Linked DNA regions of Homo sapiens: all the other regions are linked to region 3. Evidence: fine-mapped expression QTL. A gene starts in region 3. Each other region holds a variant in brackets. All regions are shown on one strand. Distances are between the middles of the regions.

Region 1 (5,708 bases), 53 kb after region 3:
CAGCAACCTGGTCACTGTCAAGGAAGCCGATGTGCTCAGATGTAGGCTGGGCACCCCCTTCCTGAGGTGTTTCCTGTCACCCAACAGACAGGCTGCCTCCCAGCCTCCAGATGGAATTGGGATTGCCACCTGGCTTAAGATGCAGGTCCCTTTTGTGGCTGTTCTTTAGCTGGAAAGCAGTGTTTTGCATTTTGTTAACATACTCAGGAGGCCTGACTCCTGGCTGTGGTCACTTTACAAAGAAAGTTTTTTCCATGTAACAGAAAAGAAACCCAATATGGGAGTTTTTGTACTTCATAATTTAAAAAAAAGAATGGGAAAGAAAAGCTCTCCACTTTCTTCTCTATCTCAGGATCCTTGCTGGGGGTTTGCAGTGATGGCTGCATGGTGCCATACTCAGCAGTACTGTGGAGGCTGCAAGGGATGGCTTCTCTTCTCATGAACGCCAGTTGAGGAGAGAGAATACACAAGTGAAGAGTTAACGCTAATGGAAGGTCTGTTTGTCAGAGCCAGGCTTCAGAGAGGCAGATGCATCATTAATTGCTTAGTCAGATAATCACATATTACTTGCTATAGAAATAAATGCAGGGGAGGCAGATGTCATGTTAGGTCATGCAAAGTTTTATGAATAAAATGGCATTTGAGCAAGGAGTGAAGAAATGGAGAAGCAAAGAGAATGTCAGGAGCAGGAAAAAGGCAGGAGAACAGCAGACAGGTGTGGCAAAGCCGGAAGAAACCATTTTGATAGGAGTGAAGGAGTTCCTGTTGGGAAGAGTGGAAACGAGACTGGGGAAGCAGGATGAGGCGTGTTTTTGAAGGTCATATGGTTCAAGGATCCCTCAGTTAGGTATGGGAATGCTACAAAAGGGGCAAAAACGGAGTCTCAAGTTTGGGAGAAATGGAGAGTGAATGAAAGCTGCTGTCTGTTTCTAGATAAATTTCTCACCTACGGTGTCACCAGAGAGCAGGAAACCATGGTCTGCCTGTTGCTCTGTGAGCTGTCCCGGGGGACTCAAGGGTGGGGGGTATTCTGCTGCCCTCTGTCCCTTCCTCTGGGATGTCTGACTGCCTTGCTGTGAAGGCAAGGGTGCTCCCCACGGCAATGACCTGTCTTCATTTACAGGTACTTTCTCCTGTGTGTAAACTATTTCTTCTATGGTGAGACAGTGACGGATTACTTCTTCACCCTGGTCCAGAGAGAAGAGCCTTTGCGGATTCTCAGTAAATACCACCGGTTCATTTCCTTTACTCTCTATCTAATAGGTATGCATTAAGCAGTTCACCATTTCTTGTGTCTGTATTGTTTTTGTATGTCTGTCAGGTAGGAATTGGGGAATTTCTTGGTTAGTATACAGTTTTGTGACATTAACTGTGACCATGCAGGGGAGCAGAGCTGATGCTCTATGTTAAGCTGTAGCAGCTGTTACCTTTTTTTTTTTTTTTTTTGAGCCAGGGTCTCACTCTGTCACCCAGGCCAGAGTGCAGTGGCACCATCTCGGCTGACTGCAACCTCCACCTCCCAAGTTGAAGCGATCCTCCCACCTCAGGTCCCGAAGTAGCTGGGACTACAGGTGCCTGCTACCATGCCCAGCTAATTTTTGTATTTTTAGTAGAGACCGAGTTTCGCCATGTTGGCCAGGCTGGTTCCGAACTCCCGAGTTTAACTTATCCGCCTGCCTTGGCCTCCCAAAGTGCTGGGATTACAGGTGTGAGCCACCACGCCCGGCCTTGTAGGAGCTCTTTTAAGAGAAGCAGAGTGTAGGGGCAGGACTGTGGCCTGTGCCACCTGCCCCTGTGTTTCAGCCACCATTGAGGAACAGCACAGCATGGTCCTGTCCTGACTCTCCTGTTGGCAAAGATTCTGCAGTGGGACCGAAACAAAAATCATCTAGGAACTTACCATCTTTAGGGGAGTCATTTTAGGAGACCGCCTTGGGTGACATTGTAGCATGGTGGAAATTTTACTGGATTTGGGCGTAGACTCTGCAACCTCAGGGGGAGCTAGGAACATAATATTTCTGAGTCTCAGCTCTTTTGTAATCTAGAGCTAAAACTGCAGGGTTACTGTGAGGATTAAATCAAATACATTAAAACTTCACAAACATTAAAGCGTTATATTAGTATACATTCAGGTAAGGCCACGTACTAATTCTAATAATGCTGATGGTTTTTCATAGCTACCTTCAAAGCTAGTTTGAGGTGCACGAAAAATTTGTTCTGACCTCAATGTCAATCTGACCTATTTTTGATCAGCTTGATAGCAATACTTCTGTGAATGACACCTGACTATTAAAATATAAAATCTGCAAAGGGGTCTGCTGCCATTGAGGATATTCAGAGAGTATGCTGCAGACCCCGAAAGCAGCCTTCCACAGTGGGAGGTAAGGGGTCTGGAAAAGCGACATGCTTATTTCTGGGCAGAACTGCTTTTGAGGATCTCCGCATGTTTATGGATAAAGGTTCCTTTCCTTCCTGGAGAAGGGGTCTGC[G/A]GACATGTTGTGCTACCATCTAGGTCACTGTGAGAGAGATAAAAAGGTGGTCTTGACCCTATACCATGTGGATCCCTCTTCTCCCAGCCCTATGAATACTAGGACAGGTATTGGCAAACTTTTTTTTTTTTTTTAAGGGGAAGCAAGTTTATTAAGAAAGTAAAGGAATAAAAGAATGGCCCTTAGAGCAGCCCCGAGGGCTGCTGGTTGCCCATTTTTATGGTTATTTCTTGATTATATGCTAAACAAAGGGTGGATTATTCATGTTTCCTTTTTTTAGATCATATAGGGTAATTTCCTGATGTTGCCATGGCATTTGTAAACTGCCATGTCACTGATTGGAGTGTAGCAATTAGGACAAGCAGAGGTCATTCTCATTGCTATCTTGATTTTGGAGGGGTTTGGCCAGCTTCTTTACTGCAGTTGTTTTCTCAGCAAGGTCTTTATGACCTGTATCTTGTGTGACCTCCTATCTCATCCTGTGACTTAGAATACCTAACCGTCTGGGAATGCAGACCCTGTAGATCTCAGCCTCATTTTACCCAGCTCCTATTCAGGATGGAGTTGCTCTAGCTCAAATGCCTCTGACATTTCCCCCATCACTTTTATAAGAGAACCCTTAATCCTAAGGGTTGCAGAGGGACGAAGATCCATCCTCTGTAACTTCTTCAGGCTGATTAGGGGCAATGATATTCCTGCCTACCTATCGAGGTCTCTTGTATTCAGGGTAGAGAGGAGCTCAGTCAGAAAGTGTCAGTATGGTTAGGGCTATTCACAGCTCGGACACAAAGTGATATCTGGAAGATTTTGTAAGTGTTTAAGAGAACATTGAGTAAGCTTATCCTGCATTCCTACACAAATAGTACAACTATTCCATATCAGTAAAGCAAAATAAGCAAAACTATCCCAAGTAAACTAAAGAAGGCTTTCCATGAACTGGGTAATTGTTGGAACCAAGCTGATACGGGGTCGGTAGCTGATTGCAATATGTTCCCAGAATTAGAATACTGATTCAGATTTTTACATCACCAATCCCTCTTGTTTCTTCTGAGCTGCAGCCAGAGATCACTGGTTGGTTCACAGGAACAAGCAGTCTAAATTGCAGAAAAAAACCAAAGTCAGCCAATCAGTGCTGCAGTCTATTTCCTTTGGGTTGGGGGTCTCCTCAGTATTGTCCCTTTGGGGTTCACCAGAAAGATGTTACCAGAAAGGGGTCCAGACCCGGACCCCAAGAGAGTGTTATTGGATCTCATACAAGAAGGAGTTTGGGGCGAGTCTGTGGAGGAAAGTGAAAGCAAGTCTATTAAGAAAGTAAAGGAATAAAAGAATTGCTACTCTGTAGGCACAACAGGCAGCAAACTTTTTATTAAAGTTCCAAACAGTAAATATTTTAGGCTTTGGGGACCATAGGGTCTCTTGCAGTTACAGTCATGCATCGTTTAACCATGGGCTATGTTCTCGGAAATGCATTGTTGTCATTTTGTCATTGTGCAAACATTGTAGAGTGTACTTATGCAGACCTAGATGGTATAGCCTCCTACACACCTAGGCTATAATGTGTAGTCTATTTCTCTTAGAGTACAAACCTGTACAGCATGTTACCTTACTAAATAAATACTGTAGGCAATTATAACACAATGGTAAGTATTTGTGTATCTAAACATAGAAAAGGTACTATATGGTAATTAGTAAATCTTATGGTATTATAATCTATGGGTATTATAACCTTAGGGAACTGTTGTTGTGTATGTGGTGTGTTGTTGACGAGAACCTCGTTGTTCAGAGCATGACTGTACTCAGTTCTGCTGAGTTGTAGCTTGAAAGCAGCCATAGACAATATGTAAACAAATGGACATAACTGTGTTTGAATAAAACTTTATTTATAAAAACAAGCAGCTGGCCTGACCACTGTTTGCTGGCCCATGTTCTAGGAATAAAACATTCCTATCTGATGAACCATGTTCTAAGTTTAGTGTGGTCTGCATGATTATAAAATATTGCCTTCCTTTTACTGTTTGGGAGGAGTTATTTTTTCCTTGTGACTGTTTATCTGGGTAATGTTTTTCTCCCCTGGGCTTTGACATTGTGCACTGGTTAGCTGCTGGGAATAAATTAGCCAAAGAACCACTTAACATAGCTAAAGGAGGGCAAAGATAAATGCAGAACATAATTCATTTTTCTTTTCTCCTCCCACCTCAAACTAGGATTCTGCATGTTTGTACTGAGTCTGGTCAAGAAGCATTATCGACTGCAGTTCTACATGGTAAAGGAAATGCATGCGTGTGTGTCAGAATTCTTGATTTAAATGAAGTTTTTCAGGAACTCAACAAGCCTTTCATGCTTTCTGTGACAAATCAAAACTCAGGAACATGGTCTGATATGTATGCATCTAGAGCATGAAGGAAGAATGCCCATTTAGGTTTAATGGCTCTACGTTGACTTAGACCCAGTCACTGTTACTTACACCTTAAGCAGCCTCTCCACTAGGACCCTGAGGTGGGCTCCAGAGAAGGCACAAGCTGAAGCTTCAGACACTGCCCACAGATGTCCTGTCTGGTACATCACTTGCTACCACTTATTCCCTGACTCACTAGAGAACAGCTCCTCTCTGAGTGCTCCAGGTGCTCAATAACTACTAAGAAAATGAAAAATACCCAGGCTTTCAGAGCATGGGAGAGCTCACTCACTAGTGGGCTGTGGGGGACAAAGTATTACTCTCAGAAGCCTGATCTTACCTGTTCACTTTCAATAAGTCAGATACAAAAGCAGATATTTTTCCTACCTGCTTCTCAGCAGTTTTCTATTTGGTATTGATTGTTCTTTGAAGTTACTTTCAAGGTAAACTGGTAAGTAGTGTTTATTTTTCTTTTTTTTGCAGTTTGGCTGGACCCATGTGACATTGCTGATTGTTGTAACACAGTCACATCTTGTTATCCACAACCTATTTGAAGGAATGATCTGGTGAGAATTGGGAGTTGGATTTTCCCTTTTATTTTGTGAGTGTTTCTCGTGTACAGATACCCCCCTCTAAGCCAGTGGCCCTCACCTTGAGCCACATCAGAATCCTCTGCAGGGTTCATTATAGCACAGATTGCTGGACCCCACCCCTGACTTTTTGATTCATTAGATCTGGGGTAGGCTTGAGAATTTGAATTTCTAGTACATTCCTGGGTGGTGCTTATATTGCTGGACAGGACCTATGCTCTGAGAACCACTGTT
Region 2 (5,708 bases), 74 kb after region 3:
GCTCTCTGCTTGGAACCCTTTGGGTCTTGAGGTTAAAGTTCAGACTTGGTAACGAGGCTTCTGGGGCCATCTGTGAGCTGGCCAGTGCCTGACCCACGCATTCGGGCCCTGCCTTCACAGCCACAGCTGCCGCTTGTCCTTCCTTGTTCCAGGTGTGCGCCTGTCCCGGGCCCTGGCGTGGGCCCTCTGCCCAGTTTTTTTCCTTTCCCAGCTCTTCGTCAGCCTGCCTAACTCCTCTTTTCCTAGCAGTTCTCACCGTCAACAGCACTTCCTTGGGGAGGCCTTATGTTGTCTCCTCACTGTGTGTCTCCTGCCCCAGGACAGAAGGGTCTGAACTCCTGGGAGCCAGCAGGCCAGCCTTACCAGGGCAAATGTCTGAGGCCAGTGGGACCTCTAGATTGATTACCTTTTGGACAGGGGCCTCTGCCATTTTCACCCATAGGAAAGCTACTACCATTGGAATTTCCTCAGTGAATTGCTCGCCAACATTCAAGATGCAGAAAAACCCACTGCATTCACTTACTTTCCTAAACCCCACAAAATCTGACTGCAAGCCACCAGTTTCCAAGACTGATGGGAAAACCAACATGAGTCGTTTTCCCTGGCTGCTTTGCTCCCTTTTGTTGCACCAGGAGCCGAGGGCTCACATGTTGCTGAAGTGGTGAGGGTCCCTGGGCTCAACTCCATCTGCTGAAGGCTCTGTTGTCCAGCCCTGTGAAGTCCATAGGAGGCCCTAGGCCAGTGGCGTCAGAGCACCTGTGCAGTTGCCTGCATCTGGCATCCTTCCATATCCAGAGCCCCCCGCACACTGGTCTTGATGATTTCTTTTTTCTCCTCTCTCCTTTCTTTCTTTTTTTTTTTATTATTATACTTTAAGGTACATGTGCACAACGTGCAGGTTTGTTACATATGTATACATGTGCCATGTTGGTGTGCTGCACCCATTAACTCATCATTTAACATTAGGTGTATCTCCTAATGCTTTCCCTCCCCCCTCCCCCACCCCACAACAGGCCCCGGTGTGTGATGTTCCCCTTCCTGTGTCCAAGTGTTCTCATTGTTCAATTCTTACCTGCGTGAGAACATGCGGTGTTTGGTTTTTTGTTCTTGCGATAGTTTGCTGAGAATGATGGTTTCCAGCTTCATCCATGTCCCTACAAAGGACATGAACTCATCCTTTTTTATGGCTGCGTGGTATTCCACGGTGTATATGTGCCACATTTTCTTAATCCAGTCTATCATTGTTGGACATTTGGGTTGGTTCCAAGTCTTTGCTATTGTGAATAGTGCCGCAATAAACATACGTGTGCATGTGTCTTTATAGCAGCATGTTTTATAATCCTTTGGGTATATACCCAGTAATGGGATGGCTGGGTCAAATGGTATTTCTAGTTCTAGATCCCTGAGGAATCGCCACACTGACTTCCACAATGGTTGAACTAGTTACAGTCCCACCAACAGTGTAAAAGTGTTCCTATTTCTCCACATCCTCTCCAGGATCTGTTGTTTCCTGACATTTTAATGATCGCCATTCTAACTGGTGTGAGATGGTATCTCATTGTGGTTTTGATTTGCATTTCTCTGATGGCCAGTGATAATGAGCATTTTTTCATGTGTCTTTTGGCTGCATAAATGTCTTCTTTTGAGAAGTGTCTGTTCATATCCTTCGCCCACTTTTTGATGGGGTTGTTTGTTTTTTTCTTGTAAATTTGTTTGAGTTCATTGTAGATTCTGGATATTAGCCCTTTGTCAGATGAGTAGATTGCAGAATTTTTCTCCTATTCTGTAGGTTGCCTGTTCACTCTGATGGTAGTTTATTTTGCTGTGCAGAAGCTCTTTAGTTTAATTAGATCCTATTTGTCAATTTTGGCTTTTGTTGCCATTGCTTTTGGTGTTTTAGACATGAAGTCCTTGCCCGTGCCTATGTCCTGAATGGTATTGCCTAGGTTAGACACAACAAAAAAGAGAATTTTAGACCAATATCCCTGATGAACATCGATGCAAAAATCCTCAATAAAATACTGGCAAACCGAATCCAGCAGCACATCAAAAAGCTTATCCACCATGATCAAGTGGGCTTCATCCCTGGGATGCAAGGCTCATTCAACATACGCAAATCAATAAATGTAATCCAGTATATAAACAGAACCAACGAAAAAAACCATATGATTATCTCAATAGATGCAGAAAAGGCCTTTGACAAAATTCAACAATGCTTCATGCTAAAAACGCTCAATAAATTAGGTATTGATGGGATGTACCTCAAAATAATAAGAGCTATCTATGACAAACCCACAGCCAGTATCATACTGAATGGGCAAAAACTGGAAGCATTCCCTTTGAAAACTGGCACAAGACAGGGATGCCCTCTCTCACCACTCCTATTCAACATAGTGTTGGAAGTTCTGGCCAGGGCAATCAGGCAGGAGAAAGAAATAAAGGGTATTCAGTTGAGAAAAGAGGAAGTCAAATTGTCCCTCTTTGCAGATGACATGATTGTGTATCTAGAAAACCCCATCGTCTCAGCCCAAAATCTCCTTAAGCTGATAGGCAACTTCAGCAAAGTCTCAGGATACAAAATCAATGTGCAAAAATCACAAGCATTCTTATACACCAATAACAGACAAACAGCCAAATCATGAGTGAACTCCCATTCACA[A/G]TTGCTTCAAAGAGAATAAAATACCTAGGAATCCAACTTACAAGGGACGTGAAGGACCTCTTCAAAGAGAACTACAAACCACTGCTCAATGAAATTAAAGAGGATACAAACAAATGGAAGAACATTCCATGCTCATGGGTAGGAAGAATCAATATGGTGAAAATGGCCATACTGCCCAAGGTAATTTACAGATTCAATGCCATCCCCATCAAGCTACCAATGACTTTCTTCACAGAATTGGAAAAAACTACTTTGAAGTTCATATGGAACCAAAAAAGAGCCCGCATTGCCAAGTGAATCCTAAGCCAAAAGAACAAAGCTGGAGGCATCATGCTACCTGACTTCAAACTATACTACAAGGCTACAGTAACCAAAACAGCATGGTACTGGTACCAAAACAGAGATATAGACCAATGGAACAGAACAGAGCCCTCAGAAATAATGCTGCATATCTGCAACTATCTGATCTTTGACAAACCTGAGAAAAACAAGCAATGGGGAAAGGATTCCCTATTTAATAAATGGTGCTGGGAAAACTGGCTAGCCATATGTAGAAAGCTGAAACTGGATCCCCTCCTTACACCTTATACAAAAATTAATTCAAGATGGATTAAAGACTTAAATGTTAGACCTAAAACCATAGAAACCCTAGAAGAAAACCTAGGCAATACAATTTTTTTTTTTTTTTTTTGAGACAGAGTCTCCCTCTGTTGCCCAGGGTGGAGTTCAGTGGTTGGATCTCAGCTCACTGCAACCTTCGCCTGCCAGGTTCAAGTGATTCTCCTGCCTCAGCCTCCCAAGTAGCTGGGATTACAGGCATGTGCCACCACACCCCGCTAATTTTTTTATATTTTTAGTAGAGACAGGATTTCGCCATGTTGGCCAGGCTGGTCTCAAACTCCTGACCTCAGGTGATCCACCCACCTTGGCCTCCCAAAGTGCTGGGATTACAGGCGTGAGCCGCCGCTGGCTGTGTGTTCAGCCAGCACTTGTGGAGTGCCTGCTCTGGGGTAGGCCCTGTCCAGACACTGCAACAAAAAGTCCTTGTTTCATGGAGCTCATTTTAGGGAAGAACGACAAACCTGAGAAAGGATGTTAGATGGAGAAAAATGTAGCCAGAAGGAGGGAAGAGGGATTGCTGGTAGGGAGAGGTTGCCATTTTAAATAGGGTGAACAGGGAAGGCCTCACTGCAGAGGTGGTGTTTGGGCAAATGGACACACCTCGAGGCTGTGGGGGAGGGAGCTGTTCAGGTATCTGGGGAAGTGCAAAGACACCTGTGCTGTGGAGGAACTGCAGGGTGGATGGAGCAGGGAAGTGGGGAGGAGCACTGGCAGGAAACCCAGGGGAATTACACAGGGCCAAGGCCATTGGCTTTTACTCTGAGCAAGATAAGAAGCTGTTGGGGAGTTCAGAGCCTAGGAGTGTCAAAGTGGTGTTTGTTTGCAAAGGGCTGCTATGTTGAGAACAGACTACAGTGGGCCAAGGGTGAAAGCAGGGTGATCAGAGAGGAGGCAACAGCAGCGATCCAGAAGAGAGAGAGACAGACACACACACACACAGACACACACACACAGACACACACACACACACACACACACACACACGTGGCTCAGCAGGGGATATGGGAGTGGGGCGGTGGTGAGAAATGGTCAGATTGTCAGAATCTGCAGAAGGATTAGGTATGGAGGAGAGGGACGAAGAGGAGTCAAGGAGGGCTGTGAAGTTGGCTTGGGCGGCCGGAAGGATGGTGCTGCCATTTCTAAACTGTGGACGGCTGTGGGAGGACAGGTGCAGGTGGGAGGTGGATTAGAGAGGGTCAGTCAGGAGTTTGGGTTTGGACACGCTAGGTTTGAGATGCCTGTGAGATACCCACACAGGGATGTCCAGTCCTGGGGAGTAGTCCGAGATGGAAATAGAAATTTGAGAGTGATGAGGGTGTGCGCGTTATTCTACACCAGGAGCCGGAAGACTGGATAAAATCATCGACGGAGAGGAGCTAAGGTCTGGAGATGAGCCCCTCCGTCGTTTTGGACTTGAGGATCTACTTTTTAGCTAGGGCTACTCCCTTCCCTTCAATAAGACAATCCAGCCTTCAGGCCTGGGGAAAGGCCTGGGTAGAGTTGCCTTCAGGTGGCCCCACTCCCACCTCACAGCAGAAGCAGCTATTAATTTTCTCCTGGGGCCAGAATTCTAGAGGCCTGAGTGCTCTTCCCTTGAGAAGAAAGGGCAGCTTTACCTTTTGGTCTCCTGGGAAAGGAGAGGAAGGGAAACAAAGCAAGAGTAACTTCTCTATTTGATTATTTAGAGGCCAGGCAGTCGGGGTGGGAAGTCCCAGAGATGGACTCATGGCCTGGCCATGGCGTACTCACTTACACGCCATCCAATATTTACCAAAGGACACTGCCAGTTCCCAAATCAACCAAAACTTAGGGAGTTCTCAAATGAAATAAACACCATTGTGCCATTTCCGTTAATATCACTTCTCAATTTTAACAAACTTAAACACATTTTTAGGGTAAAAAGCACATCCATCAGACTGAGTCTAGGTTCAGGGTAAATTCTGATCTGGATTTGACCAAGGGAACTGAAGTTATTCCTGCAGCAAAGATTTGACCGATGGTGGATTTGACTGAGGCAACTGAAGTTATTCCTGCAGCTAAGATGGGCTCTCTGATCTTGCCCACATGGTCTCTATTTCTCGTAGATTCCAGGAGCCTTAGAGGTAGAGCCTTTGAAGCCATTGATTCTCAAACTTGGCTGCACATTAGAATTGCCTGAGGAACCTAAAAAACTACCAGTGCCCAGGCAGTATCTCAGACCAATGAGATAAGAGTCTCTGGGGGTGGGATGCAGGCATGAGTTTTAAAAAAAGCAGTTCCCTGGACTTACTCCAAAGTGTAGCTGAGGTTGAGAAACAGTGATTGAAACTTCCTCTAGTGAGTCCAGCCCCTCTCAGAAACCCATCATAACTGGTCAGCACCCTGTGCTGGAGCATCCCCAGGGTGAGCCTCAGGATGTCCCGAGGTGACCCTTCTGGGGTAGGTAATG
Region 3 (5,708 bases):
GTCAAGAATTCAAAACCAGCCTGACCTAAAACCCCTGTCTCTACTAAAAATACAAAAATTAGCCAGCTGTGGTGGCGGGCGCCTGTAGTCCCAGCTACTCGGGAGGCTGAGACAGGAGAATTGCTTGAACCTGGGAGGCGGAGGTTGCAGTGAGCCGAGATCACACCATTGCACTCCAGCCTGAGCAACAAGAGGGAAACTGTCTAAAAAAAAAAAACAAAAAACAAACAAAAAGAAAACAAAAAACGAAAAGAGAGAGAGAGAAGGGCTCTAAAGCTGGCCTAAAGCCCTATTAGCATCACTTCCACCAGACCCCTGTTCGTCACACAGTACTGACTTCAGGAATATACTTGATCTGAGTTCCATTAACCTGAGAGGGCTGAGTGTAATGGATGAGAAGTTTGTTCAGACCACATGTTATCCATCCTAGTAATCATGCTGTGCATTCTATAATTCTGACTTATGTGCATTGATTCTCCAAGCCTCCTTTTATTAGGCTGGATTTGAAAAGGAGCAGCTGAGTTTCTAGAAGGACTGACATGACACTCACTTAGATATGACCTTTCATACCTACGTGCCCCTGAAGGTGAAGTTCTAGACACTAACATCTTCACCTGTCTTAGAAGATCATCTTGCTCGAGTGCTGTGGCTCATGCCTGTAATCCCAGAACTTTAGGAGGCCTATGTGGGAGGATTGCTCGAGCCCAGGAGTTTAAGACCAGCCTAAGCAATAAAGTGAGACTTCATCGCTACACAAAAATTTAAAAGTTAGCTGGGTGTGGTGCTGCACACCTGTAGTCCAAGCTACTCGGGCATATACTCATATAGAAATCAGGAATATATAATGCTGTTTTCAGAATTCTCACTACCTGCCCCAAAACTCACAGCTCAGGTCAAAATTACCAATAGGAAATTTTAGCCAGGCATGGTAGCTCATGCCTGTAATCCCAGCACTTTGGGAGACCTAGGCGGGAGGATCTCTTGAACCCAGGAGTTCAAGACCAGTCTGGGCAACATAGTGAGACCCTGTCTCTAAAAAAAGGAGAAATAAATTAATTAAAATTTAAAAATTGAAAAGAAGAAAAATGTAAAATTATATTTTTTTAAAAAACGAAATTGCAATTCTTTTGTGTGCAAGTGTCTCATTGTGAGATTACAGTATGCTTAAGTTGGGGACGCAGTGTTATATGTGTTTTACATCACTTACAGGGCAGTGAATAGAAAGAACAGGAAACACCAAAGGCAATGCTGGAGCAACACAAGTATTAATAAATGCAGGCAGGCAGTATAGTATGGTGGTTAGAGTGTGGGCTGGTAACAAACCTGTTTGTGTTCTAATTCTTACTAGGCACTTTCTAGCTGGGAGACCTTGGCTAAGGTCCTTTTAAAAGTTTTAAATCCATCCAACAAGTACTTACAATGGATGTGTCAAAGACATAGAGGATGCACAGTAAACAAAGTAGACAGCACTTCTGTCCCAAAAAAGGTCTTTCCATAGTCCAGAAGACAAATTTGAAAAACTGAGGAAGGGCCAGGCTCGGTGGCTCACGCCTGTAATCCCAGCACTTTGGAAGGCGGAGGCGGACGGATCACCTGAGGTCAGGAGTTCGAGACCAGCCTGACCAATATGGTGAAACCCCGTCTCTACTAAAAATACAAAAGTTAGCCGGGCGTGGTGGCGCGCACCTTGGAATTGTTTGCGCCCGGGAGGCAGAGGTTGCAGTGAGTCGAGATCATGCCACTGCACTCCAGCCTGGGCGACAGAGCGAGACTCCGTCACAAAACAAACAAACAAACGAACAAACAAACAAACCACTGAGGAAGATCTTAACTGTAAAATTCAAATCATACCCACTTCCAAGCCATGTGTGGATTAAACGAGATAAGCCAACTAAAGCGATTACTCAGCTCAGTGCCTAGTATACAATTAGTGCTTAACAAGTACTAGCGACCGCTTGGCAAAGCAAAGCAGACTGAAGCGTGGGTTTCATTTCTCATCATGTGATAAGTGATAAAATGCTCTTAACCAGGTCGGCTCACCTGGCCTTTCCATTCGACCTAAATAACGTCTACTTACTTGCGTAAGGGAAGAGCTCTGGCCCAGGTCAGCAAGCATTTGTCAGGCTAGAGCCTCCGGGTGGCGCTTCTCGCCCTCAGTAACCGGTTACCTCCAGAACCAGGGCGCCAGCTCCGGCCATCCGCGGTTAAGCGGGAGCTCCCATTGGCTAATCGCACACTGAAACGCACGCCTTTTCCCGCCCCTGACGCTGCCGTCCAATGCGCGCCTCTCGACTCTGCTCCGCCCCGCCCCGCCCCCGTCGCCCTGCCTCCCTGGCGTATTTGCGCCATTGGTGGATATTCCGGACCGTGATGGTGGCGCTGCGCGTGCGCACTCGCTCCGAGCCCTGCTCCCGGGAGAGGGAGCTCTCGGGTCGGGGCTAGGGAAGGCTGACCCCGCTCGGCCCGGGTGAAAGGGCGGTGACGGCACTGGGTGGGGCCGAGCTCCAGGGCTGGCTGCTGGGCTGCTAAGGGAACTGTGAGCCGCTCAGAGCCGCGCGCCTCCCGGGCGGGGCGGGGCCGGCCGTGGGAGTCCGCGCGTGCCCGCGCCGAGCTGCCTGCTCCGGCGGCTTCGCTGCTAGCTCGCGGCGACGTCGGGCCGATTTTCCCAGGATGACAGAGCTGAGGCAGAGGGTGGCCCATGAGCCGGTTGCGCCACCCGAGGACAAGGTAGCGGCAGCGTCGGGGTGGGCGCGGCCGGGACAGCGGCGCATCCGGGAGGCCTGCGGGGGACGCGCGCAGAGGGGTCGTCTTGTTCTCTGACCCTTTGTCGCAGCCGACGGCGGCCCCGGGCCCGGGTAGCGCGAAGGGCCCTCGGGTGCCCGGCCTTCGCGGCGCGCGCGTCAGGGGTCGGCGGGTCGGGGTCCCGGCTCAGGGTCTGACTGAAGTGGCTCCCCCGGGGCGCAGGAAGGAGCTTCTCGGGAGTGGCGCACGGCCTCCTGCCTCGCTGGGCTGGCTGCGGGGACTCCCCTCTCCCCCAACTCCGTGAGGCCTTCCTGGAGGTGAAGATATGCAGAGCCTTCTTAGGGAGGCGGCTCCTCTGAGCGCAACTTAGGCTCTCCGTTCCCTTTTACAATGTTATTATTTTGGGGGGTGGGGGAATCAGGACAAGGCCATAGCATTTGCCTCCTGGGAGATGTAAATCCCTTCTTGGGCATGAAATCATCGGCTTTGAGCAAAGGGGTGTTACCCAGTGAGCCAGTCCGTCATCAGCAGGTGTTGGAGGGCGTCCTCCCGGTTGATGGGTTGTTTCCTGCACCGTGTGGGCTCTGGTGGGTAGGGGAGGAGAGTAGGAAGGAGGCCATCTTGGCGGGGACAGTGGCGGGGGTGACGGGTGGGGGAGTGGACTCCTTTGGGTGAAGTGAAAGATCTGTGTAGGGGAGTTAAGGAAGGTAGGGATTGGTTTTATTACTGTGGAGGTTGAATGGCAGTATAGGACTTTGTAGCAGTAGTTGTGCTTTCCGAGATAGCAGTGATCAGGAGCCCTGTGTTTGGGAAACTGATCAGACAGTGATGTGTAGAAGGGACTGAGGGAGCCTGGACCAGACTGAGGGAGCCTGGTTCACTCGGGATTGCCCATGAGTGACCTGTAGATGTTTTCTTTGGCCCACATATTGCCTTAAAAATCAGAAAGTTTCTCCTAACAATCTAAATTTCTTGCCTGTCTTAGATAATTGGAGGGTCCACCATCACTTTGTCACCTGCTCAATGGTTGGCTGGAGCTGAGGATCATCGGTTCCCACCAATCCCTGTTGCCTTACACCAGGCTCACGGCTTCCCCTAATGCAGCCTGTAACTTTTTGATGACTGGACGCAACGGACATTAGGGAGACACCCAGAAGGAAGAAAGCACAAGATTTGGTGACAGGATGTCAACAGAGCAGTTACACTAGGAGGAATGTTTTTGGTGAAAGATAATGAGATCATGGGTTTTTTTTAAACAACTTTCGTGTTATTGCAGTTGACAGTGGACTATCCAAAGAGAACTGTTCCTACCGATTTTTAGAACATATATTTTGGCCAGGCACAGTGCTGCTCGCCTGTAATCCTAGCTTCTAGGGAGGCTGAGGCAGGAGGATCGCTTGAGCCCAGGAGTTTGAGACCCTGTCTCAAAAAACAAAAACAAAAACATATTTTGGAGAACATTTAGGGCTGGGGCTGAGGATTTAGCAGTCGCTTGCAGAGACAAGATACTTTGAAGTCTCTAATTTTTCATTTGGCTATCCTGGTTCAGCCTGAAAGAATTCTGACTTACCTTGTACTACTAGTTGGTGAGTATGCAGATGTTTGGAGGCTCTGTAGCTCTGTTTAAGGGTGAGATCATGCTTGATGTTAGTGGGACTTTGTGGACCTAGAAGGTGTGAGGAGAGAGAGAAGAAAGAAGGCATGATAGCTGGTGGGCCATGTTTTTGAAAAGCTAACTATGTACAATAATTAGAATGTCAAAAAACAACCTTGGGATTATGAGATGCAACATAAAGATTCTACCCTCCTTCCCGGACTCGTTGGATCCATCCCCCAGAGATAAAGTGCGAGTTGAACCGTCTTACTTTCACATCCTGTACTTTAGACTGGGAGGACCTGAGGAGCTGTCCAGCTAGAGGTGCACTTATATCACTTATACAGTGACAGAATGCCTGGGGTCATGAGGTCCACTTGTGGCGTGTTGTTTCCTAAAAGACAGCTGCTATGCACTCTGTTAAAAGCCTGATGTTCATTACCGAGAACAAGACAATCAGTTCCTCACCCCATTATTCAGAACTTCTCAATTGTCACTGAATTGTCATGTATGGGATTTTATTATTATTATTTTTTTAGACGGAGTCTCTCTCTGTCGCCCAGGCTGGAGTGCAGTGGCACGATCTCAGCTCACTGCAACCTCTGCCTCCCAGGTTCAAGCTAGTCTCCTGCCTCAGCCTCCTGAGTAGCTGGGACTATAGGCATCCGCCACCACGCTCGGCTAATTTTTTTTTTTTTTTTTGAGAGGGAGTTTCGCTCTTTTGCCCAGGCTGGAGTGCAATGGCATGATGTTGGCTCATCGCAACCTCTACCTCCCAGGTTCAAGCAATTCTCCTGCCTCAGCCGCCCGAGTAGCTGGGACTGCAGGCGTGTGCTACCATGCCCGGCTAATGTTGTATTTTTAGTAGAGGCACGGCTTCTCAATGTTGGTCAGGCTGGCCTCAAACTCCCAACCTTAGGTGATCCTCCCGCCTCAGCTTCCCAAAGTGCTGGGATTATAGGCATGAGCCACTGTACCTGGCGTTTTTTTTTTTGTATTTTTAGTAGAGATGGGGTTTCACTGTATTGGCCAGGCTGGTCTTGAACTCCTGACTTCGTGATCTGCCCGCCTCGGTCTCCCAAAGTGCTGAGACTACAGACGTGAGCCACCACACCTGGCCATGTTTGGGATTTTTAATAAGGGAACATTTTAAAAACTGTGAAATCTATTATTTGTCTTTGAATGTATATAGTAAACTTTTGTTTGTTGGTTTGTTTTTTTGTTTTTTTTTGAGACAGAGTTTCGCTCTTGTTGCCCAGGCTGGAGTGCAATGGCACAATCTCGGCTCACTGCAACCTCCACCTCCCGTGTTCAAGCAATTCTCCTGCCTTAGCTTCCCCAGTACCTGGGATTACAGGTGCCTGCCATCACG

Which allele goes with the higher level. Alleles are on the strand shown, and positions count from the first base shown. SD is a standard deviation of normalised expression in the study named. Not every link is listed here.
In carriers of allele A in region 1, the expression in monocytes of the gene that starts at base 2,586 in region 3 tends to be lower than with G alone (large effect, 1.0 SD a copy in Quach 2016).

The links. PIP is the estimated chance that this variant, and not a neighbour inherited with it, causes the effect.
Region 1: its variant is the best candidate, but not a certain one, in a credible set for the expression of CDS2 in monocytes (Quach 2016, PIP 0.83).
Region 2: its variant is the best candidate, but not a certain one, in a credible set for the expression of CDS2 in whole blood (INTERVAL, PIP 0.70).

Annotation. Positions count from the first base shown.
Region 1 is chr20:5,177,694-5,183,401 of GRCh38, forward strand. It overlaps CDS2 (CDP-diacylglycerol synthase 2), which reads left to right. Exons shown (of 13, transcript NM_003818.4): 5 at 1,124-1,263; 6 at 4,694-4,752; 7 at 5,368-5,450. Among named protein-coding and RNA genes, the nearest start is that of CDS2, 54 kb to the left of the region's middle. The variant G/A (reference allele first, on the strand shown) is at 2,490.
Region 2 is chr20:5,198,562-5,204,269 of GRCh38, forward strand. No RefSeq gene overlaps it. Among named protein-coding and RNA genes, the nearest start is that of CDS2, 74 kb to the left of the region's middle. The variant A/G (reference allele first, on the strand shown) is at 2,660.
Region 3 is chr20:5,124,423-5,130,130 of GRCh38, forward strand. CDS2 (CDP-diacylglycerol synthase 2) reads left to right here and starts at 2,586. Exons shown (of 13, transcript NM_003818.4): 1 at 2,586-2,727. The coding sequence starts at 2,671. It also overlaps a transcript of PCNA not described here. RefSeq lists a silencer at 2,075-2,994 and enhancers at 2,257-2,758, 3,335-3,424.